Regions from separate parts of the Homo sapiens genome. Here region 1 is linked to region 2. Evidence: fine-mapped expression QTL. A gene starts in region 2. The other region holds a variant in brackets. All regions are shown on one strand. Distances are between the middles of the regions. Region 1 holds the start of LOC107986009 (a long non-coding RNA gene). Region 2 holds the start of LMCD1-AS1 (LMCD1 antisense RNA 1).

Region 1 (11,992 bases), 110 kb before region 2:
GAGAAGTGTCTGTTCATGTCCTTTGCCCACTTTTGGATGGGGTTGTTTGTTTTTTTCTTGTAAATTTGTTGGAGTTCATTGTAGATTCTGGATATTAGCCCTTTGTCAGATGAGTAGGTTGCGAAAATTTTCTCCCATTTTGTAGGTTGCCTGTTCACTCTGCTGGTAGTTTCTTTTGCTGTGCAGAAGCTCTTTAGTTTAATTAGATCCCATTTGTCAATTTTGTCTTTTGTTGCCATTGCTTTTGGTGTTTTAGACATGAAGTCCTTGCCCATGCCTATGTCCTGAATGGTAATGCCTAGGTTTTCTTCTAGGGTTTTTATGGTTTTAGGTCTAACGTTTAAGTCTTTAATCCATCTTGAATTAAGTTTTGTGTAAGGTGTAAGGAAGGGATCCGGTTTCAGCTTTCTACATATGGCTAGCCAGTTTTCCCAGCACCATTTATTAAATAGGGAATCCTTTCCCTATTGCTTGTTTTTCTCAGGTTTGTCAAAGATCAGATAGTTGTAGATATGCGGCGTTATTTCTGAGGGCTCTGTTCTGTTCCATTGATCTATATCTCTGTTTTGGTACCAGTACCATGCTGTAGTACTATACAGTACTATACTGTAGCCTTGTAGTATAGTTTGAAGTCAGGTAGTGTGATGCCTCCAGCTTTGTTCTTTTGGCTGAGGATTGACTTGGTGATGCGGGCTCTTTTTTGGTTCCATATGAACTTTAAAATAGTTTTTTCCAATTCTGTGAAGAAAGTCATTGGTAGCTTGATGGGGATGGCATTGACTCTGTAAATAACCTTTGGCAGTATGGCCATTTTCACGATATTGATTCTTCCTACCCATGAGCATGGAATGTTCTTCCATTTGTTTGTATCCTCTTTTATTTCCTTGAGCAGTGGTTTGTAGTTCTCCTTGAAGAGGTCCTTCACATCCCTTGTAAGTTGGATTGCTAGGTATTTTATTCTCTTTGAAGCAATTGTGAATGGGAGTTCACTCATGATTTGGCTCTCTGTTTGTCTGTTGTTGGTGTGTAAGAATGCTTGTGATTTTTGTACATTGATTTTGTATCCTGAGACTTTGCTGAAGTTGCTTATCAGCTTAAGGAGATTTTGGGCTGAGACAATGGGGTTTTCTAGATATACAATCATGTCGTCTGCAAAGAGGGACAATTTGACTTCCTCTTTTCCTAATTGAATACCCTTTTTTCCTTCTCCTGCCTAATTGCCCTGGCCAGAACTTCCAACACTATGTTGAATAGGAGTGGTGAGAGAAGGCATCCCTGTCTTGTGCCAGTTTTCAAAGGGAATGCTTCCAGTTTTTGCCCATTCAGTATGATATTGGCTGTGGGTTTGTCATAGATAGCTCTTATTATTTTGAAATACGTCCCATCAATACCTAATTTATTGAGAGTTTTTAGCGTGAAGGGTTGTTGAATTTTGTCAAAGGCCTTTTCTGCATCTATTGAGATAATCATGTGGTTTTTGTCTTTGGCTCTGTTTATATGCTGGATTACATTTATTGATTTGCATATATTGAACCAGCCTTGCATCCCAGGGATGAAGCCCACTTGATCATGGTGGATAAGCTTTTTGATGTGCTGCTGGATTCGTTTTGCCAGTATTTTATTGAGGATTTTTGCATCAATGTTCATCAAGGATATTGGTCTAAAATTCTTTTTTGGTTGTGTCTCTGCCTGGCTTTGGTATCAGAATGATGCTGGCCTCATAAAATGAGTTAGGGAGGATTCCCTCTTTTTCTATTGATTGGAATAGTTTCAGAAGGAATGGTACCAGTTCCTCCTTGTACCTCTGGTAGAATTCGGCTGTGAATCCATCTGGTCCTGGAGTCTTTTTGGTTGGTAAGCTATTGATTATTGCCACAATTTCAGCTCCTGTTATTGGTCTATTCAGAGATTCAACTTCTTCCTGGTTTAGTCTTGGGAGAGTGTGTGTGTCCAGGAATTTATCCATTTCTTCTAGATTTTCTAGTTTATTTGCGTAGAGGTGTTTGTAGTATTCCCTGATGGTAGTTTGTATTTCTGTGGGATCCGTGGTGATATCCCCTTTATCATTTTTTATTGCATCTATTTGATTCTTCTCTCTTTTTTCTTTATTAGTCTTGCTAGTGGTCTATCAATTTTGTTGATCCTTTCAAAAAACCAGCTCCTGGATTCATTAATTTTTTGAAGGGTTTTTTGTGTCTCTATTTCCTTCAGTTCTGCTCTGATTTTAGTTATTTCTTGCCTTCTGCTAGCTTTTGAATGTGTTTGCTCTTGCTTTTCTAGTTCTTTTAATTGTGATGTTAGGGTGTCAATTTTGGATCTTTCCTGCTTTCTCTTGTGGGCATTTAGTGCTATAAATTTCCCTCTACACACTGCTTTGAATGCATCCCAGAGATTCTGGTATGTTGTGTCTTTGTTCTCGTTGGTTTCAAAGAACATCTTTATTTCTGCCTTCATTTCGTTATGTACCCAGTAGTCATTCAGGAGCAGGTTGTTCAGTTTCCATGTAGTTGAGTGGTTTTGAGTGAGATTCTTAATCCTGAGTTCTAGTTTGATTGCACTGTGGTCTGAGAGATAGTTTGTTATAATTTCTGTTCTTTTACATTTGCTGAGGAGAGCTTTACTTCCAAGTATGTGGTCAATTTTGGAATAGGTGTGGTGTGGTGCTGAAAAAAATGTATATTCTGTTGATTTGGGGTGGAGAGTTCTGTAGATGTCTATTAGGTCCACTTGGTGCAGAGCTGAGTTCAATACCTGGGTATCCTTGTTGACTTTCTGTCTCATTGATCTGTCTAATGTTGACAGTGGGGTGTTAAAGTCTCCCATTATTAATGTGTGGGAGTCTAAGTATCTTTGTAGGTCACTCAGGACTTGCTTTATGAATCTGGATGCTCCTGTGTTGGGTGCATATATATTTAGGATAGTTAGCTCTTCTTGTTGAATTGATCCCTTTACCATTATGTAATGGCCTTCTTTGTCTCTTTTGATCTTTGTTGGTTTAAAGTCTGTTTTATCAGAGACTAGGATTGCAACCCCTGCCATTTTTTGTTTTCCATTTGCTTGGTAGATTTTCCTCCATCCTTTTATTTTGAGCCTATGTGTGTCTCTGCACGTGAGATGGGTTTCCTGAATACAACACAGTGATGGGTCTTGACTCTTTATCCAATTTGCCAGTCTGTGTCTTTTAATTGGAGCATTTAGTCCATTTACATTTAAAGTTAATATTGTTATGTGTGAATTTGGTCCTGTCATGATGATGTTAGCTGGTTATTTTGCTCGTTAGTTGATGCAGTTTCTTCCTAGTCTCGATAGTCTTTACATTTTGGCATGATTTTGCAGTGGCTGGTACTGGTTGTTCCTTTCCATGTTTAGCACTTCCTTCAGGAGCTCTTTTAGGGCAGGCCTGGTGGTGACAAAATCTCTCAGCATTTGCTTGTCTGTATTTTATTTCTCCTTCACTTATGAAGCTTAGTTTGGCTGGATATGAAATTCTGGGTTGAAAATTCTTTTCTTTAAGAACGTTGAATATTGGCCCCCACTCTCTTCTGGCCTGTAGGGTTTCTGCCAAGAGATCTGCTGTTAGTCTGATGGGCTTCCCTTTGAGGGTAATCCGACCTTTCTCTCTGGCTGCCCTTAACATTTTTTCCTTCATTTCAACTTTGGTGAATCTGACAATTATGTGTCTTGGAGTTGCTCTTCTCGAGGAGTATCTTTGTGGCATTCTCTGTATTTCCTGAATCTGAACATTGGCCTGCCTTGCTAGATTGGGGAAGTTCTGGATGATATCCTGCAGAGTGTTTTCCAACTTAGTTCCATTCTCCCCGTCACTTTCAGGTACACCAATGAGACGTAGATTTGGTCTTTTCACATAGTCCCATATTTCTTGGAGGCTTTGCTTATTTCTTTTTATTCTTTTTTCTCTAAACTTCCCTTCTCACTTCATTTCATTCATTTCATCTTCCATTGCTGATACCCTTTCTTCCAGTTGATGGCATCGGCTCCTGAGGCTACTGCATTCTTCACGTAGTTCTCGAGCCTTGGTTTTCAGCTCCATCAGCTCCTTTAAGCACTTCTCCGTATTGGTTATTCTAGTTATACATTCTTCTAAATTTTTTTCAAAGTTTTCAACTTCTTTGCCTTTGGTTTGAATGTCCTCCCGTAGCTCAGAGTAATTTGATCATCTGAAGCCTTCTTCTCTCAGCTCGTCAAAGTCATTCCCCCTCCAGCTTTGTTCCGTTGCTGGTGAGGAACTGCGTTCCTTTGGAGGAGGAGAGGCGCTCTGCTTTTTAGAGTTTCCAGTTCTTCTGTTCTGTTTTTTCCCCATCTTTGTGGTTTTATCTACTTTTGGTCTTTGATGATGGTGATGTACAGATGGGTTTTTGGTGTGGATGTCCTTTCTGGTTGTTAGCTTTCCTTCTAACAGACAGGACCCTCAGCTGCAGGTCTGTTGGAGTACCCTGCCGTGTGAGGTGTCAGTGTGCCCCTGTTGGCAGGTGCCTCCCAGTTAGGCTGCTCGGGGGTCAGGGGTCACTTGAGGAGGCAGTCTGCCCGTTCTCAGATCTCTAGCTGCGTGCTGGGAGAACCACTGCTCTCTTCAAAGCTGTCAGACAGGGACATTTAAGTCTGCAGAGGTTACTGCTGTCTTTTTGTTTGTCTGTGCCCTGCTCCCAGAGGTGGAGCCTACAGAGGCAGGCAGGCCTCCTTGAGCTGTGGTGGGCTCCACCCAGTTGGAGCTTCCCGGCTGCTTTGTTTACCTAATCAAGCCTGGGCAATGGCGGGCGCCCCTCCCCCAGCCTCGCTGCCGCCTTGCAGTTTGATCTCAGACTGCTGTGCTAGCAATCAGCGAGACTCCATGGGCGTAGGACCCTCCAAGCCAGGTGGGTGGTGCACCGTTTTTTAAGCCCGTCGGAAAAGCGCAGTATTAGGGTGGGAGTGACCCGATTTTCCAGGTGCCATCCGTCACCCCTTTCTTTGACTAGGAAAGGGAACTCCCTGACCCCTTGTGCTTCCCGAGTGAGGCAATGCCTCGCCCTGCTTCGGCTCGCGCACGGTGCGCGCACCCACTGACCTGCGCCCACTGTCTGGCACTCCCTAGTGAGATGAACCCGGTACCTCAGATGGAAATGCAGAAATCACCCGTCTTCTGCATCGCTCACGCTGGGAGCTGTAGACCGGAGCTGTTCCTATTCGGCCATCTTGGCTGCTCCCCCACTTCCTTGCTTTTTTAAGGGATCCCTTCAGGTACTAACAATGGCAAACATTTATTAAGCTTTTCCCAAGTTACAGGCACTATTCTAACCATTTTTCAAGGGTCAGACCCTAAGTCTTCACAACAAGCTTATAAAGGAGGGGCTGTTTTTATCCCCGTTTTACAGATGAGGAGACGGAAGTCCAGAGGGTTTCAATCGCTTGCCCAAAGTCACAGAGTCGGGAAGTGCAGAGCCAGGCCACTGCCTGGTTTTAAATTCTGGGTGGAAATGCAACGTGCCGGTCAACATGGTGTGCTGGTGAGTGTGTTATCCTCAGCGGTGCCCAGGGCACAAATGTGCAGACCAGCTGACAGCAACAGCAGGCTCCCCTTTTCTCCATCAGGAACTGTCAGAGGAGGCTGGGTAAGGAGAGCAGCTTGGCCGCCTGGGGCTGCAGCTGGGAGGTCCCAGCACAGCAGCTGCTGGGTGAAAGTGGGTTGTTCTTCTTCAGTAGGAGTTGTGGGCCCAGGTTGCTTTGTTGCCGAGGCCAGCTTGGCCTCTTTGCAAGTAATTGGTAATTGTGCCATTGCACTTCCGCCTGGACAACAGAGTGAAACCTTATCTCAAAAAAAAAAAAGAATTAATAGTAATAACAATTACTGAGTACTTGGTATGTGATATGGTTTGGCTCTGTCCCCACCCA[T/A]ATCTCACCTTGAATTATAATAATCCCCATGTGTCAAGTGTGGGGCCAGGTGGAGATAATGGAATCAAGGGGGCAGTTTCCTCATACTGGTCCCAGGTAACCTCTTTAGCCACACCTGAGAGTAGAAACATCTTCAGTTTGGAAGGCAAGTAAGGGTCCTATCCACAGCTTCCTGCATGTGATCATTGCTCAGGGCAAGGTGACCAGTAGAGCCCTGGGTGAGCCTCCCCTCTACCAGTCATTGTGCGACTAGAATTACTTACAATGCATATTATGCAAGATATGGTGTATGTAGTACATACACACACACAACATGTATATGATTAATTGTAAAACAACTTTTGCCTTTGAATAAATCTTAGCTAAGCCCCACCCTAGCCCTGAGACCATCTCATCAATCTCTGCGAACTTAGTCTGCTCATCTGCAAAATGATCGTATTAAGAGTACCTACTCCTCCCAGACCTGTTGTGAGGACTAGAGATACGTAATTAACGGAAGGCTCTTAGAACACAGCCCGGCACATACTGTATTAATCTGTTCTCACTCGGCTAGTAAAGACATACCGGAGACTGCGTAATTTATAAAGGAAAGAGGTTTAATTAACTCACAGTTCCACATGGCTGGGGAGGCCTCACAATCATGGCAGAAGGCAAAGGGGAAGCAAGACATGTCTTACATGGCAGCAGGTAAGAGGGCATGTGTTAGGGGAACTCCCATTTATAAAACCATCAGATCTCGTGAGACTTATTCACTACCACGAAAAAGAGTGTGGGGAAGCTGCCCTCATGTTTCAATTATCTCCACCTGACCCCACCCTTGACATGTAGGGACTATTACTATTCAAGGTGAGATTTGGGTGGGGACACAGCCAAAAACCATATCACATACTAAATACTCAATAATTATTATTACTACTAATTCATTTTTTTGAGATAGGATTTCACTTTTGTCCAGGCTGTAGTGCAATGGCACGACAGGGCTCACTGTAGCCTCAAACTCCTGGACTCAAGCAATCCTCCTGCCTCAGCCTCCCAAGTAGCTGGGATGACAGGTGTGTGCCACCAGGCCCGGCTAAGTCCAATGTCACATATTGTCATTATTACTGTTACTTTTACAGTGTGGAGTCATTGTGGGACTTAGATGCATAAATGAAATAATTCCTCGCACAAAGTAAGTGCTCATTAAGGGGTACTTTATATTTTTGTTGTTATTACAAAGTTCTTTCTCCCTCATTTAATCCCCACCCCAGATGTGGAGGAAAGCTGGGATTCCTTTTCTCATTTGAAAAATGTTGAAACAGATGGATATAAAAAAAGCAAAATGTCTTGTTCCACGTTTCCAAAAGAGGAAGTATGAAAGGCGTAATTGAAATTCAAAACGTTTGGTCTGAAAATCCTACATCCTTTCTCCTAACAACCGTGAATTCTTACTAAAGGATAAGGCATTAAAGCCTTTTTTGAACCATCTTTCTCTTATGGAGGAACACAGCCTATTAAACCACACCAGCTACTAACTGCCTGCTAGGGTCTGAAAGTGTCCTCCCAGCAGTCATGTCTCCAAGGTGATGGCATTAGGACGTGGGGCCTGTCGGAGGTGATTAAGTCACTAGAGTGGAGCTCTTATGAATGGGATTAGTAACAACTTTCCTAAGAAGAGGCCAGAGAGCTAGCTCTTTCCACCAGGAGAGGATACAGGAGAAGTCAGCCATCTGCAACCTGGAAGAGGGTCCTCACCAGAACTCAACCATGCTGGCACTCTGATCTCGGACTTCCAGCCTTCAGAACGGTGAGAAATGAATTTCTGTGGTTTATGAGCCACCCAGTCTATAGTACTTCAATATCAAAGCCCAGACAGACTGAGACACTGCCTGTTTACACAATTCTATTCCACCTATCGTTTCAGTTTCGTACTTTTAGGAGTCCTTTGAGGCCCGTCTCTTTTGAAACCCATTTCAAAGATGAGAAACCTGAGGTTCAAAGAGGTTGAGCATCCTGCCCAAAGCCATGCAGCAGGTTGGGCCGGACCAGGGTCTTCTGTCTTCTGGTTCTCCAGTATGGAATCAAAGAAAGAGTCCCTTTAAATCCAGAGGAGGCTTGGGGTATGCCAAGAAGCACCCAGTGCCTCCACAGAGCAGGCTTCGTCCTTCTCCGTCTTCACCTCCCTGGCCACCCTGGCAGTCCCAACTGTGCATAAGGGCCAGCCTCTCACTGTGGCCTCCACCCCGTCTTGTAATCGGTGCCTCCTGGTGAACTTGCCATGCCTTAGAACCCATCGCTGCCTCCCTTTCACTGCACAGTCTCGGTGTGAACCTTCTGAGTGCGTCTCCCAGCACTGGACCCTGCAGCCTCTGAGCCCCACTTCCACACTCTCATGTCAGACCTGCCAGCAGGCAGTCACCTGTACATGGTATGGCTGAGCCTGAGATCTCGCCTCCCAACACACAGCTGGCTCTAGACGGGCGGGACCATTCAGAGGCAGACAGAGGGAGGTGTGTAGGGGTACAGAGGACAGATAGATGTCACTGACCCCACCAACAAATAGTGAAACAGCAGAAGGAAAACATAGATGTACACGTGGGCATTAGGACACTTGGTCGAAAGTAACGGAAACCCAACCCACGCTGGGTGAAGCAGTTTACTGGCACACAGAACCGACAAGTCTGGTGTAGTTCTGGCTCTGGGCTGGGGTGTTCCCAGAGGTTCAGGCAATGTTGTTGAACATGTTTCTTTCTACCTGTCTCCTACGTTTCCCTATCCTGCTAATGGCAAGAGGTACACCCTTAGTTTCAGGCTGGCTATGACTTTCTCAGCATTCCTGCAGCCAAGAGCTCATGACTTTCCTGGTTGCTCTACAAAAGGCCCCAGGACTGAGACTCCTTGGGCCAAACACCCTGGCTTGAGCCAGCCTAACACCAGTCTCTATGGCCCTGTGCTGAAATAAGCTGATTATCCAGGCCCAGGTCCAGGGGATGGGAACTGCCCCATCAAAACCCATCCTGGTTGAGGAGAGGGCAAACCCCGCTTCCCGCAGGAAAATTCAGGTGCCATTTCCAGAAGCGGAGGGGAATCCTGGCAGCAAAACCACCAACACCCAGGGCAGTGTTTATGCACACACTGGACACCGGGTGTCCCCAGCCAACCACTTTCCTTGTAAGACTGCAAGCTTGGACCTGTTTAATGTCACATGTGAACCTGATAAGAAACCAGGCTGGAGGGTTTCCTCTGAGGATGCAAGGGCTGGAATGGAGATTCTCTGTCTAGACTGGACTGAGTTCTTTCTGAAACTGGGCAGGACACTCAGGCTCCCAACTTTCCTTCCTTCCTGGTGCCCCCAGCAGCCACTGCTGATCGCCCTGCCTCACAGTCAGGGAGGCTGTTGAGGAAGACAAGATGCCTGTTATTTCTAAGGGACATACTCTCTCCAGGTGGTACAGAGTGCAGACTCTCCCCTGAGAAAAAGAGAGTGAATGAGGACAGCCCGGGCTGCAGAAGCCAGTGTGGTCTGCCCATTGGGCAGCAATGGGCAGGTGGCGTTGGCTCTGTGGTCATTGGTGGGCACAGGGAGTCCAAATTCTTGCAGGGGAACAAATCCAATCTGATTTTACAAACATGACAATCTTCCTGGCTCGAAGCATCTGGTTATTCTTCTCATTCCTCCAGCTTGGCTCAGAGAAAGTTTTCTCAAAGAAGGATCCACTCAGCGGCTGCCCCTTACAGCTGCAGAAAATCCTCTTTAGTTTTGCCCTGAAGCAGATAGCTGCAGATGCAGCAAACCATCCATGAAGAGATGGGATTTATATTGACAGACACATGTTTATCCAGATCAATTAGGGAAAATTATTTTTGCAACACTCCTCAAACAAGGTTTGGCAGCTAATAATCAGTTTGAGTCGTGCAATGTGAATGCCAAAAATGTGAGATGAGATGAGAAAGCTACGTGCTAGATTGCCTCTCGGGAGAGCACTGTCTGGCCGGGAAGAGACACTGTGGTGATCCTCTGGCACAGGGGGCAGGATGCTCTCTAAATTACTCTGCATAATTAAGGAGAGATAAGTTTGACATCGGGAAGGGAGTGATTGGATTGGGCAAACTGACCACTGTGTGAAGGAGTGGCAGGAGAGAGAGAGAAAGCCAGCACTGCAGAGAAGGGCCTGGGGAATGCCCATGCCCATGTGCCGGGTGGAGAACTTTCAAGGGAGATCTTGGGTGCAGGGTGACATGGACCTGCCCACGTTGTCAGGGGAAACTGTTGAGAAATCCTCAAATGCTTGGTGGATGAATCTTTTCTTTTTGCTTCTCTGGATCCTCTCCGGACCCCTCTCCACTCTAGACTGGGCCCTGGGAGGCTGTCCTGCATGGACCTCCTTGCCCTCTGGCTTTTTTGAGGGTTTGGCCAATGGGGAGCACAATACCCTGAATGTGTCCCACCAATATTCGTAGGTTGAAATCCTAACCCTGAATATGAATGCACTTTACTTTGGGGAGTAATCAGGTCATGAGCATGGAGCCTTCATGAACGGGATTAGTGCCCTTATAAGAAGAGATGCAAGGGTTTGATCTTGCTCTCTACTCTCCATCACTTGGGGATACAACAAGAAGGTGACCATCTGCAAACCAGGAAGCAGGCCCTTCCTAGACACCAGATCTGCCAGCACCTTGATCTCGGACTTCCAGCTTCCGGACTGGGAGAAATAAATTTCTGTTGTTTATAAGGCACCTAGTCTATGGTATTCTTCTGTAGCTGCCCAAACTGCCTAAGTTGGGGGCTTTACTTGGCTTTGGCCAACAAGGAGCTTTCATTTAAGCCTGGGAGGGAGAAAAGTGAGGCTGGGGATACTAGTTTCCCTATCCCCCAACTGCTGCATTGCCTTGGGCTGGTTGGGTCTCTCGACAGAAGACCTCAGCCGTGATGGAGCGGCCTTTCTCCACAGCCTTCTCTGTCTCCTGGTTCCTGAAGCTGCTCCTTCCTTGGCCCCTGCTGTTAATAGCTCTAGGGAGTCACATAATCCCTTGGGGTTTCTATAAGCCTTGCCCATACCTTGACAAAATTTCCCTCCATTGAACACACCCCCAAATAATCCTGGTTTGAGTGAGATGGCTGTTTCCTGCTAGGACTCTGACAGACCCACTTGGGATGAGTGCTTTTCTCATGGAAGCCAGTCTAGGACATGCGTTCTGGGTCCTGGGTGAGCGGCTGAGCAGCAAGTTCACACTAGGGAAGAGTTGGCTTGTAGGTTAAAGCAAACACATTTGGGAGCTGTCTGGGAATATCCCAGCAGCCTGGCTGCCCCTTGAAGCCATTCCCGTTTGCAACTCCAAACTTCGAGGCTGAGTGGGGGAGGGATAGCATTAGGAGAAATACCTAATGTAAATGAAGAATTAATGGGTGCAGCAAACCAACACAGCACATGTATACATATGTAACAAACCTGCACGTTGTACACATGCACCATAGAACTTAAAGTATATAAACAACAACAACAACAAAAATCTACATACTTCAGTGTGAAAAAAAAATATCAGAGCAGTCCCAGGAGCTCACCCAGGCTAGGGCCCCTTAGGCCATTATGGAGAGGTCTTTCATTAACTGAGACTGGGAACAACTAGGATCTGAAGACACAGAAGGTAGGAGATTGAGAACTGCTGATGTGACCATTTTGCTGATGTGGAAACTGAGGTTATAAGAGGTTCAAGGTCACAGGTCAAGTAGACAGCAGCATTGAGAAAGCCATAGAAACGTAAAAACATGCCTTGGTCCGAGATCAGATGCTGAGCCCGAGTGTTTATAGGCCATGTCTAGGCAAGTCAGCTAGGAGGGTTCTGGGGTGCTGAGATTGAAAAGATGTTTCTCTGTTTTTCTGATTACAAAAGTAATTCAGATTCATTACAAAATATTTTAAAAATATGGCATAAAGTAAAAATCACCCAGAATCTTACCACTTAGACACAACTCATATTTACCATATTTCCTTCCAGGCTTTTTTCTTCAATATAGCTGCAGTCATTCCCTTCTTATAACTTTGTTTTCTACATTTTTTTCTTAGCATTATGAGTAAGCATTCTTTGTAAACGTGATTTTTAGAACTTCCTTATTTTGTCACAT
Region 2 (11,915 bases):
TCGATGGTCAGCCTCATGAATCAGTACCTAGAAACGCCACTGAGTCATACAGCCCAAACAGATGCTCTCTTCTAAGGGCAGGTTTCTTATGAGGTCATTAGTCAGCCAAGAGCCCTTTCCCTATGCTCCTGCCCTTTGGTGTCCCTGACATCAGTACTGTGAAAAATACAACCCAAACATTCAGCTGCCTCTGAAAACATATGCTGAGCAAAGACAACTGGTCTACCACTGTATCGCTGTAGGAAGGCTGAGGGACCACTGGCTGCTGGTGGGACCTAAGAGCTGCCAATAGTCCCCCTTGCCTCAGCCTCCTTTTCACTCAGTGCCACTGGTGGTTTCTTCCCAAAGGCCCTATTTAAAATGTGACAACTGGGAGGACTACTACACTCATTCTACTGTTACACTGTAGGGATGACCAGAGTTGAGATGTGGCTCTGAAGGTGTGTGTCCTGGAAAATCTGAGGGTGGTTGGAAAAGGAAGGAGAGGTATGTGTGTGTGTTGGGGAGGGGAGAGGTCAAGGAACACAAAGACTCACAGAACACTGACATTATTTGGCCTGTCTCCTGCCTTATGAAAAATAAATTCTACCAGACTCAAGTTTACTTGGCAGGGATCAAAGCTTTCCTATTCATTGTCATGTATTCAGTACTTAGCACAGTGGCTGGCACATAACAGATGCTAAATAAATATTTGCTATATAAAGAAATGAGTGACTGTTGCCCTATCTTATAAGCAAGACATTGGAGGGAAAGACTGGTAATGGAGCAGGGGAGGGCTGCTATGGAAAGGGTAGCGACCAAACACCCAAGACGAATTGTGGCTATTCTCATGATTTTGCAATGTGATGTGGCCTGAGTATATTTATGGCTAGGTCCAAGTTTAACTACAAAGAGAAGGTCCTGCAGTCTGAGAGCTTAGAAGCCCCATGTGATGTAGGTAAACTGAATTTGGTCTTCCACATCCCAATACTTAATAACCTATGGGATTTTTGCATCATGCTGATGAGAGGGGGTATCCATAACAGCAGGAGGAAATGTTTATCAAGGGTATATTATGTATCCAGGCACTTTATGCACTTTACCTCATTAAACTATCGTTTAAATGTAGAACTACGGTGAGCTATCTTTCTCAAATGAGGAACCAGAGGTCCAGAGAGGATCAGTAACTTGGCGAAGTTTGCAGACCTGGCAAATTGAAGAGCTGCAGGTCACATCTAGATCTTTGTGCTTGCAAATGTTGTGTGTTTAACGGCTCCTCGAAGTGGCTTCTGGACCTTGTGGCCAAAGCTAAGTTCACAGCCAAAATGTCCACCTGAACTTCTGAGTTTCAAGGTATGAGGTTGACACAAAACTGGGATACTCTGGGGGTGGAAGTGACAGAATACAGCAGACACTCTTTTCTCCTTCATTCATAAAAGATGCTGTGAGTCAATGTATCTTGGTTGTGGCACCACTCATGTAAATGTAAGTTTGTAAATTTCAGATATGCCATTTCTTATGTAAAGTTCAGATGTGCCATTTTTTTCTTTGTAAATTTCAGATATGCCATTTCTCCCCCTGTCCCATTTGTGACATGAAGGGGTTGAATGAGCAGATAACAAGATTCTGCTCAGCTCTTTTAGACAATGGCTCATTAGCCTTTGTCTCCAGAGATAAATTTTACAAAGGATTCAATATTTTTTAAACAGGAGGAGGAGACAAAATCTATACACAAAGCATGTGGATTTGAAACAGCCACCTTGAGTTGGACACTGGCACTCCTTTGTCCTTCAATAGAGTTACTTGCCAAATGGAGCCTTTGTTTCTTCTCCCTTAGCAATTATATTTCCTTTTAAAGCATGTCCCGGTGGGGGCCCAGGCCATGTTTGGCTTGGTCATGATTTATATATTATTGGGTAGGCCATGGGTCAGGCTGACTAGACATGTAGAAATGCACATGTCAAGGCCAACCTTATCCCCAGGGCAGAGTTTCCTGAAAGCTCTGGGACAAGGTCTCTAGAATTATTTTTAGAGTATTAGGATAACATGTATTATTCTTTAAAAGGTCTCTCTACTAGTCTTCTGCCGGGAGATGTCCATTAGCCTTCTGGAAAACCAGGAGAAATCAAGAAAGTCTTTATTCTATACCCGAGAAATGGCTCTGATTTGGTGTAGGTGACAGTATACTCCTGGTGGTGACCAAGAGATATCAAAGAGATACAGGTGCCTAGCAACATTTTGCAAATGCTGGGAAGCTTCTGAACCAGACTATCAATGAGTTCAGTGGGCTGGAAGAAATTGATCTGTGTATGAAAGTCACAGTAATAATCATAGTCCCTCCTCACCAGATTTCTGCTTTCTACGAATGCCTTCTGTTTCTTGCAGAGTGAAAAGAACTGAAGTTTTGGAGTCAGAGAGGCCTGAGTTTGAGTTCTTAATCTGTCATTATGTGACCTTAGACAAGTCGTTTCAAACTCTTAGTCTTAACTTACTCATGTGTAAAAAAGGACACCAATATTTTTGCATGGTAGTCCTTGAAGCTAAAGAGCTAACACACAGGAAAATGTCAATCATCTCCGGACCCTTAGAGATGTCTTTCCTTCCTCTCTTTTGCCTAGCCCCAAACTTGCCTGTCCTAACAGAGAACAAGTCTGTTGGGAGGCAAGAATCCAAATAGATAATAAAAGTAAGAACAGACTCCTTTCTCTTTTCTGAGAAAAAAATGTAAAAGGGTTTGCTTCTCATACAGAAGAGCAGATATGAGACAAGGAGTTGATTTGGGAGTTTCACAAAGCACTACAATTGATTTGTCTCTTCTGTTTTTGTGAAAACACAATTTCTGCATCAAATATACAGGATTAGATACTAAATTTGTGTTTCAGCCACTAAAGGAGCCTTGGTGAACACAGGAGACTCAACTTCATATGTAACTCTTTCTATAAAAGTTTTATAGAGAGCATTTTCTAGAGCTTTTGCAGATCTATGCTATTGCTATATGTAAACATCCAACAATGGTTTGGGACACACCAATTGTTCCACGTGGATTTAAGGAAATGTTGTGCTCTTGAAGGAGTCCTGCAAAAGTGGCTGGTGGCCCTGCACCTGGTGAGACAGTAGCAGCTGCTGGCCAAATCCTCTTCCTGTTATCAAATGGTAGGGGATATGAGGATATTTCTAAACGAAGGCTCTTCAAGAGCAACAGCTGTCTCTTCATTTTGGATGTCCTGAAAAGCTGCTCCACAATTCCGCTTTCAGTGGAACGAAGTTTTAAGCCTATTTTGTCATAATCATTTGTTATTTGGGAGATGATCTGGTGTAAAGGAAAAGTCAGTGGGCTGGAGGCAGAAGGAACCCTGGTTCTCATCCAAATTCTGCCACTTCCTAGGAAAGGTGACCTATCCAAAGTCACCCAGTGAGTAAACGCCTGCAGTTATTATAATGACTCACGCCCCTGCCAGAAATCTGTTCTTAAAATAAAGATTTAAATGGTGTTGGATGAATGGTTGGGAGATAAGAGCTCTCAAGGTCTGTTACTTATCAAGGCAAATCTCCACTTTATGAGACACAAACTATTTTGAATGTGCAAGCTAAAAAGAGGACGATTTGCCTTCCTAAAGTCAAATTGAATACTTCTCCTGGAGCCCTGTCAGCTCTAGTGAGTTGCGAGAGGAACTATTCCCTTACTTCTCTACTCTTTACCTTTTCCTCTTGGGAAGTGGCCTGCGTAAGGGCGGAAGGAAAGACACACACAAAAGCCTGTGTGCAGCCCCTCCTTCCTGGTCCCCAGCCTTTGCTGAATTCAGCCTATTCTTTTTTCATCCTTGTCACCTTTGGTCAGTTAGCATGAAGAGAGGATCAAACCAAGCATCCTCAGAGGGGAATGCCAAAGTCATTTTTCCACTTTCCAACTCGTAGGAGTGTTGGTAAGCTCTGAGCAAATTCCTAGCCTTGGAGCTGAGATGCTTAGATTAAAGCCTGAAGATAATCTGATGAAGCTCTTTCCTGCCTCCCACTACCACAGTGGCAGATACATTGGTGAAAGTCAACTGTCAGCCCCCAACTCCGCATAGTCAGACACACCTGCAGCTTAGGACAAAAATCTGCAATTCACAAAGTAATGGTTTCAGCATCTGTTTTTAGAAAGCATGTAAAAGGGACTTGGATAATTTCTGTTTTTAAAAAACAAGGCTCTATTATGGCAAAAAAGTTGCTTATACACCTATGGGCATGTCTCCAATGTCTTGGCTATTAAGGTCTTTAAGTGACAGTTTAATATGTTTTTAAGATTGAGAGAGCCAACGACAATTCACGAGGAGCTGTGTTTACATTGGATCAGCTCACCCGGGTGATGTGCCAGTAGTTTGGCACACTGCAGGAAGTGGAGGTGAAAGCAGGAAGGGCTGAGTACAGAGGGAAGGCCTAGCCTGAAGGACAGGAAAGCCAAGAGGGATGTGATGTAGAGAAGCATGGAGAGAGACATCCAGGTGGACCTGGCAATGGACTTAGAAGTACCATCATTTAATGCCCCTTGGGCATTGTGTTGAGGGGTGAGAATTTCTAATTGGATCCCTCTGGAGCCAGCCCACTGGTGACTGCACAGTCAACTATGAACAGGTTCCTAGCTCTCTTTCTTCTAATCCCTTCTAAATTCCTACAGATGGTTCCTTGACAGTCAAGGGGTCTGTATTCTTGCAGAGCCTAATAGGCTTCAGTACATTTTCTCTGCAACTTCTGATAAGGAGCTTGATCCCTCTGGGCCTCAGTTTCCTTATCTAAAAAGTAAGGCACTCCAAGTCCCCTTCGAGGCCTAACATTATATAACTCCAAAGTGAAATGCTCAATAACTGGCAATCCATGTTCAGAAGGAAAGACTGTTCCATGTAAGCAGATTTTGCACCCGTTGGGTGAGAATGAAGGCAACAGCATTTGGTCATTGTCTTAGCTTGTCAAAGCTGAGCAATGGCTTAGGTTCAGCTGAATGAAAGTTAGGTGCTCTTCAGATGGGGCAGTTATAAATAAAAGTGTCCTCATTCACCAGAAAATTCCTTTCCGCATCCATGCACCCACTGAAATGTACCGCCACCACCAAGGACTGCCATGGCTAACTCTGAGTGCCCATATGCTGAGCCTTTTATGTACATCATCTCACTTAATTATCACAGCCATCTTGGGAGGTAGATGCTGTTACTGTTTCTTCAACTTTCAAATGAGGTGAGGATACTGACTCAAAGTTAATTAGCTTGCCCAAGAGCACACAGCTAGTAAGTGGGGGAGCTGGGACTTAAACCAGATCTGAAGCCAAAGCCTGCACTAATAACTTGCATCCTTAATAAACAAGAACAAATCCATAGTCGAGATTGGTTTCACCCAGAAAAATGGCATTTGGCCTTCAAGGCCCTTTGTTACCAAGAAATGTTGGCGATTTCACCATTCTCAGGGAACTGTCTGTGCTAGGAAACCTTCTCTTTCCTAATAGAAAAAAAAAGATGGTTCAAGAGCAGCCGGTGGAAGCATTTTACTTAGAAAGAAAGAGAGAAGTTAGGGAACTTGTAAGCTCTGCCACGATGTATGTATGTGGCCCCCAGTGAGTCTCTTTCCCCAGCCTGTCTGGGGTTGGTTAGATGACCTTTAAGTCTACTCCAGTTTTTAGATTTTATGTTCTTTGCTGAAGATCTTTTTATGACTTTCCAGTTGGTGGGGATTCCCGCCCCAGCCCCCTCGGGGGTAGGGAAGCGGAAACAGCCTGTATGCCATTTTAAACCATTTCTCATTTTGTAAATAGGCCCCTTGTAGCTCTAAGAGTCTATGAAATTGTTTCAAAATGTCTAAGTGCGATTATGCATCCTGAAGCCAAATGTTATAAACCTCCCCCACATACTGTTGCAGATTTAAAAAATAAATATGCAGTAAAAGCTTTTCAGCGTGTTGCTGATATCACGTAGTACTTAATCACTTCTGTGACATTCAGTTCAGCAAGGGGAGCTTCTCGGCTCTCCTCCCTCCCCTCCACATTTTGAGTTGAAGGCATTGGTTAACCTACAAAATGGTGATCTTCCTCCTGATTGTCGCAGTCCCAAGAGATAAAAAAAATCTGCCCTTTCATCTCTACCCACCACATTCTTTCTCTAAGCCTGTAATTGGATCTAAATGGAAAACAAACCCTTTGCAGGCCAAGGAAGTTGGCACTAGGGGGTGACAAGAAGGAGAACATGTTCCACCTCTAATCAGGATAATCACACTCCCCTATGCAAAGGAAAATAAAAACAAGGCTTCCTCCAAGTGGCAACACAGGACTGTGGTGAGGAGGAGGAGTCTCCATATACCTCATCTCACCTCATACAGTAACTATCAACCAGCTTATATTAAAAATACTCAGAATCATTTCACTTTCCAGAGGACAATGGAACTCTGCCACCTTTAGCCGTGAACTATTCTGTGTCTGAACTTGGGGAGGCAGTTCAGACACACAAATATCAATGCTACAAGTTAAAAAATAATGCATAAAATGAAGCCTATGCAAACAGTGTGGTCTTAGCTGGACAGATATTCTCATGAGTCACCCACAGGTTTTTGAGTCCTGCTGTGTGGCATGGTGTGCTATGTTCAAACAGGGATGAACAAGACAGGTTTGCCCTCAAGGAGTCCAGAAAAATGTATAGAGAAATAAGAGCATTGCATGCATAACTCACTACTAGGTAGCAATTAATAGGTATCTTCTAAGAGTCTAAAATGTTATGGTAATTTCTGTAGGAGGGGAAATGACTTGATTCTGCAAATAGCTTGGCAAATGCAGTGAGGCATGATACATTCCAGACAAATGCCCAGATTCAATGTGACTTGGTACCCACATTTAGAAGGATCCACTGGACTCTGTGACAGGGTCTGGGCAGGTGGTCTACAGAAGAGCACAGCTACAAATTAGACAGTGCATGCTGTGCCTCTGAGTGGCTGTTTGTGTCTTTAGTTTGATTCTCACGTCTTTTGTTTTTCCCCCTCTCATTCTACCCTGCAGGTTAATGGCAGATATTTAAGGAAGACTTTGCCCTTCAAGACTAAACCCTGTGAAATCAGAGTTTAACAATGACTGCTTTGGGAAATTAACTCACAGTGTCAGTATCCCTGCTACCACTGCCATGAGGGAGGTTAGGCCTATCCTCCCCACATCAGAGACAAGGAAACTGAGGCTCAGAAAAGTGACCTGGTGAATCATGTGCAGTTAAAAAGTGGCAGGGACTGAGTCTGGATGCCTAGGGCTTGCCTTACAGTCAGCTGCCTGTTAGAACCAACTCTCTGTGACCCCGGGCCTCAGTTTCCCGATCTGTAAAGCCTAGGTTGTCTCTCTGTTCCCTTCCCGTTCACATGTTCTCTAAGTCTCCAGCCTGTGCCTTCTCCCAGCTGCATTCAGGTAGGCAACAAGTGGTATTGGAGCTATAGGCACAGCCGCAGGCTCCTGTGCAGGAGTTTACCCATGACCTTCTGGGCTCCGGGCCAGCCCTTCTTGTAAGGGAAACGTGCAGACCCTGGGGACAGAAATCAGTTCCCTTATGCTGGAACTGCTGCCACTGCCAACATCACCAACTAAAGAAACTGCGTGCGTGTGTGTGTGTGTGTGTGTGTGTGTGTGTGTGTGTGTATTGGGGGAAACACACAAAACACTGGGATAATAGCAAAAGGGAGACTGTGAGTAAATATTACATGCTCTCAACCCTTACTTCAGCCACCTGAGGACAGGGAGTGAGGAAGCTAGGGGTTTTTCCTTTACAGACCATAAGATTTCATATATATATATTATATATTATATATATTTTATATATAATATATATTATATATATTTTATATAATATATATTATATATTTTATATATAATATATATTATATATAATATATATTTTATATATTATATATAATATATATTATATATATTTTATATATATATTTTATATACATTTTATATATATTGTATATATATGTAAAACCTTAATTAAACTTTAACTAGCATCACCAAAGACATAAGACCCTTTGCAAATATTTTACACAACATTGGGTTTGGGGTGTGTGTGCCTGTTAGCTCAAACATGTATTCCCAACTATTTGTTTTCCATGCAGTTTTGGAATTTAAAGAGTTCCCTTCTCATTACCTTTTGGGAAGTTTCCGCGAACAGATGGGAAGGGGAACAAGAAAAAGTAAGAATCTGGGTAAATACAAACAGCTTTCCACTCACCTTTTTAACTCCTGGGTTGAGGTCCTTAGCCACCTTTGCCATCCTCTTCTGGGGTGGGGGAACAGCGCCTGGCTTCTCAGGCAGAGGCGCGAGGGCGCGCAGCGGGGACAGCGGCGGCTGAATGGCCAAGTTCGCGGGCCTGGGAGGGAGCTCTGTGCGCAGCCAGGCGCAGCTGGGCCGCTTTAATTGGAGAGCGGGACTCCCTCTAAAACCTCGCCAGCCACTCCGCGCCGGCGCTCGCGCGAGGCCAGCCAATCCCAGCGCGAGGCTGTCCCCCTCCCTCAGGGAGGTCTCTGCACTGTGGCAGCGAGCGGAGCTGAGCGCCGGCTGCCCTGACGTCAGCATGGCCGCGGCCCCTGACTACCCAGCTCCCTTCTATCCCTCGAGCGGCAGGAATCCGTCCCCACGCCCTTTTCCTTTAAAGGGCAACGGGCCGAAGGTGGGGCGGGCGGCGCGGCTCCCGCGATCCATTCAGGTCAAAAGGGAGAGTGATCAAACAGGAGAGCCGAGGTATTTTTAGTGAGCTGGATCCAGAAATAAATGCTGAGCTGTGCTCCCCTTCCCACCCTTTCTGCCTGGTCGTAGGGGGCGCGGGGAGGGCTGAGGGAGGAGGTGTTTTGCAGGAGCTGGCTAACGTTTCCCAAACCTGGGCGAGTTCTCCAATATCCAGAGAGGAGAAAAGATTCCAGCGAGTTATGATTTTTTTAAACTTAACGTTCGTAAAGTATTAAACTGCTTTCTTATAACTTGCTTTAACATAAATCCTTCTTATTCCATGAGCAAGAAATCACTGTCCTGATCTTAGAGATGCTCCTGTGGACATACTGTCTTGTTGTATGCTCATATTATCTCAGATATTATTATTATTATGACTGTAAGACGATAGATGAGGAAATAATCAGAATAACTGGTCCACAGCTGAATTACTGAGCAAGGCTTTAACCTGAGAGACTGAGAGTAATAGAGAGAAAGCTCATGGGGGCGTGGCGGGGGGGGGGAGGGAGGCGGCGGGCACAGGATTGTAAACTATAAACTAGGAAGTTAGTAATTTTTAGATAAATGGGGTCATGCAGGCCTGGACAAACAAGATTCCATCTGAGTTCACAAATCCATGGAATGTGGAGTCCTTGCAACGCATAACATAACTACTCTTATAAGACAGAATTGGCCAGGTTCCTCTCTCTATGCCACGTTGTTTGCCTATAAAGCCACATCTCTCTGCTGAGCCGGTTCCACAGACTTGGATTCCAGAGGCATTTCCCCCCTGCCCTGACAGAGGATTAAACACAAGCCCTTTTTATCCTAGAGAGAATACTGCTGTCTCTGTTGTGAGGTGTTCGGCCTGTAACCCGTCTTTGCAGTGCCCCCTGCCAGAAAAACCAGGGTCCCGTGGGCTAAAATAAAACTCGGTTGCACAGAGACTGAAGAGTGGTCCCGAAGTACACCATTCGGGAGGGATTTGGTGAGAAGGGGAGGCTGCAGTTCCCACTGTGGGGCTGTCTCTTGCTGGAGGCTTTTTCCTCTTGAAAGCCTCCTCCAATTTAGTTCTTATCATCATCTCCAGTCATCCCAAATCTCAGCCAGGGATCCTGAATTGTGACTTTTTATTACATATTCCTGGAAAGGGCTTTTTGTGGCTTATCTTTTCCAAGATGAGGGATGACCTATTTCTTTTTTCACAGATTTCTGCTATAATTGATTTTTGCCTTGTTTGCTCCCAGCTATGTCCTCAAACACCTAGCATGTGGTATAGGCACAGTACACATTTGGCAAATGAATAGAGGTTGGGTTCTGGCTTTTATTTTTTTTATTGATACATCATGATTGTACATGTGGTATTTTGATATATGCTTACAATGTGTAATGATCAAATCAGGGTGTTTAGGATTTCCATCACCTTGAACATTTATAATTTCTTTGTACTGGGAACATGTCAAATCACTTTTAGCTTTTCTTTTTTTTTTTTTTTTTTTTTTGAGACAGAGTCTCGCGCTGTTGCCCAGGCTGGAATGCAGTGGCGCGATCTCGGCTCACTGTGACCTCTGCCTCCCAGGTTCAAGTGAGTCTCCCACCTCGGCTTCCCAAGAAGCTGGGACTACAGGCATGAGCCACCATACCTGGCTCATTTTTGTATTTTTAGTAGAGACAGAGTTTCACCATATTGGCCAGGCTGGTCTTGAACTCCTGACCTCAAGTGATCCTCCTACCTTGGCATCCCAAAGTGCTGGAATTACAGGAGTGAGCCACCGCACCTAGCCTCTTTTAGCTATTTTGAAGTATACAATTCACTGTTGTTGACTATAGTCACCCTACTGTGCTGTTGAATGCTAGACTTTTTCTTGCTATCAGACAGTGTTTGTTCGCATTAACCAACCTCTGTTCATCCCCTCACACCCCAGCCCACCATTTCCCAACCTCTGGTAACCTTCTTCTACTCTCTACCTCCATGCAGTAAGCAGGCAAAGTAAGAATAGGGAGAGATGGTGCAATGGCACACCTGGCCTGGTTTGTCCAAACTTCCAAGGTAGGCTGCATGTTAAACCAGTATGTAAATAAACAGTGGCCAACAGAAGCCTGGCCTGGGAGAGGAGGTTTCCACATGAATAGTCCTTTCAGTAGCAAATCCTAGGAACAATAGTGCTAAATCAGGATGTCATGCCAGAAGCCTTTATATTTTAGAGCTGTGGGAACAGAAGCCAGGAATATAACAAAGGCAAGCTTTATCCCTTTCAAACGAGGCAAAAGCCTGCCCAGTGAAGTCATTTCCCACTCCCTTCCCAGCCACCCTCCTTGCCCCATCTTGAAAAATCATTGTTCCATGAAATAATACTAATTTTATTAAGTTAACACTATTTATTAATAGCTCCAACCACAAGAGTCTCTCCCCCTCCTTATTTTTACCCTTGGCTCCAGGTACAATTAAGGAGGCAGATATTGCAGCTGTTTCTCAGAATTTCTCAGAACACGAGTGTCAGGAGCTGTTGCTTGGGGTGGCTCATTCCCTTCTTTCTGGAAAAAGACCTGCTGTAGGCAGAGAGGGGATCCCTGCTATCTGCTAGAAGTTGCTGTCTCCTCAGCTGAGGATTCTGACTTTGACACTTTAAACCTTACACTTGACCCTCTTGTTCCAGGGGACCTATATTCAGAGACTTAACCGGACACCTGGACAGACCATTACAACTTGGGACTTTTCAGGAGAATGAGGGAAATGTAGTTATTGCACCTGAGCCTCACTCCAGCTCTGAGGTCCTCTTCACTTCTCTTTGGAAGAAAATTGGATATCTTTTCCTAGTTGAAAGAGTAGAGATCTGATTTCTCCAAGGATCATCGCTTTTTGACACGGGATTATTAGAAGCATTCATTCATCTATCAAGGAGTTTTGGGATACTTGCCATAAGCCAAGCCCTCTGATAGGTGCTGGAAACATCAAGGTAAATAAAAGAGTTCTTCTCCTTGGAGAACATATTGGTCTAATAACTACTTCTGGGGCTCCCTGGTTGACAGAGCCCTAATCTTACTTGAACTCCAAGACAACTAGTCTCAGAGAAAACAGAAATCCCAAACAGTCCCAGGGCTGTATCAAAGGTCATACAGCTGGCAAGTGGCAGAGCTGAAATTTAAATTCAGAGTTTTTAACTTCAGATTGCACCCTTTCACCTATACTGCACTGCTTCCATAATGATTGCAGATGGTTGATTATAAGCAAAACAGGAA

The links. PIP is the estimated chance that this variant, and not a neighbour inherited with it, causes the effect.
Region 1: its variant is fine-mapped to the expression of LMCD1-AS1 in nasal epithelium (TOPMed, PIP above 0.99).

Annotation. Positions count from the first base shown.
Region 1 is chr3:8,604,740-8,616,731 of GRCh38, reverse strand. LOC107986009 (a long non-coding RNA gene) reads left to right here and starts at 4,789. Exons shown (of 5, transcript XR_001740420.3): 1 at 4,789-4,874; 2 at 5,373-5,504; 3 at 7,140-7,675. RefSeq lists enhancers at 4,292-5,172, 5,173-6,054. The variant T/A (reference allele first, on the strand shown) is at 5,890.
Region 2 is chr3:8,498,267-8,510,181 of GRCh38, reverse strand. LMCD1-AS1 (LMCD1 antisense RNA 1) reads left to right here and starts at 8,524. Exons shown (of 4, transcript NR_033378.1): 1 at 8,524-8,711; 2 at 11,333-11,632. LMCD1 (LIM and cysteine rich domains 1) reads right to left here and starts at 8,359. Exons shown (of 6, transcript NM_014583.4): 1 at 8,202-8,359. The coding sequence starts at 8,243. RefSeq lists enhancers at 9,838-10,771, 10,772-11,705.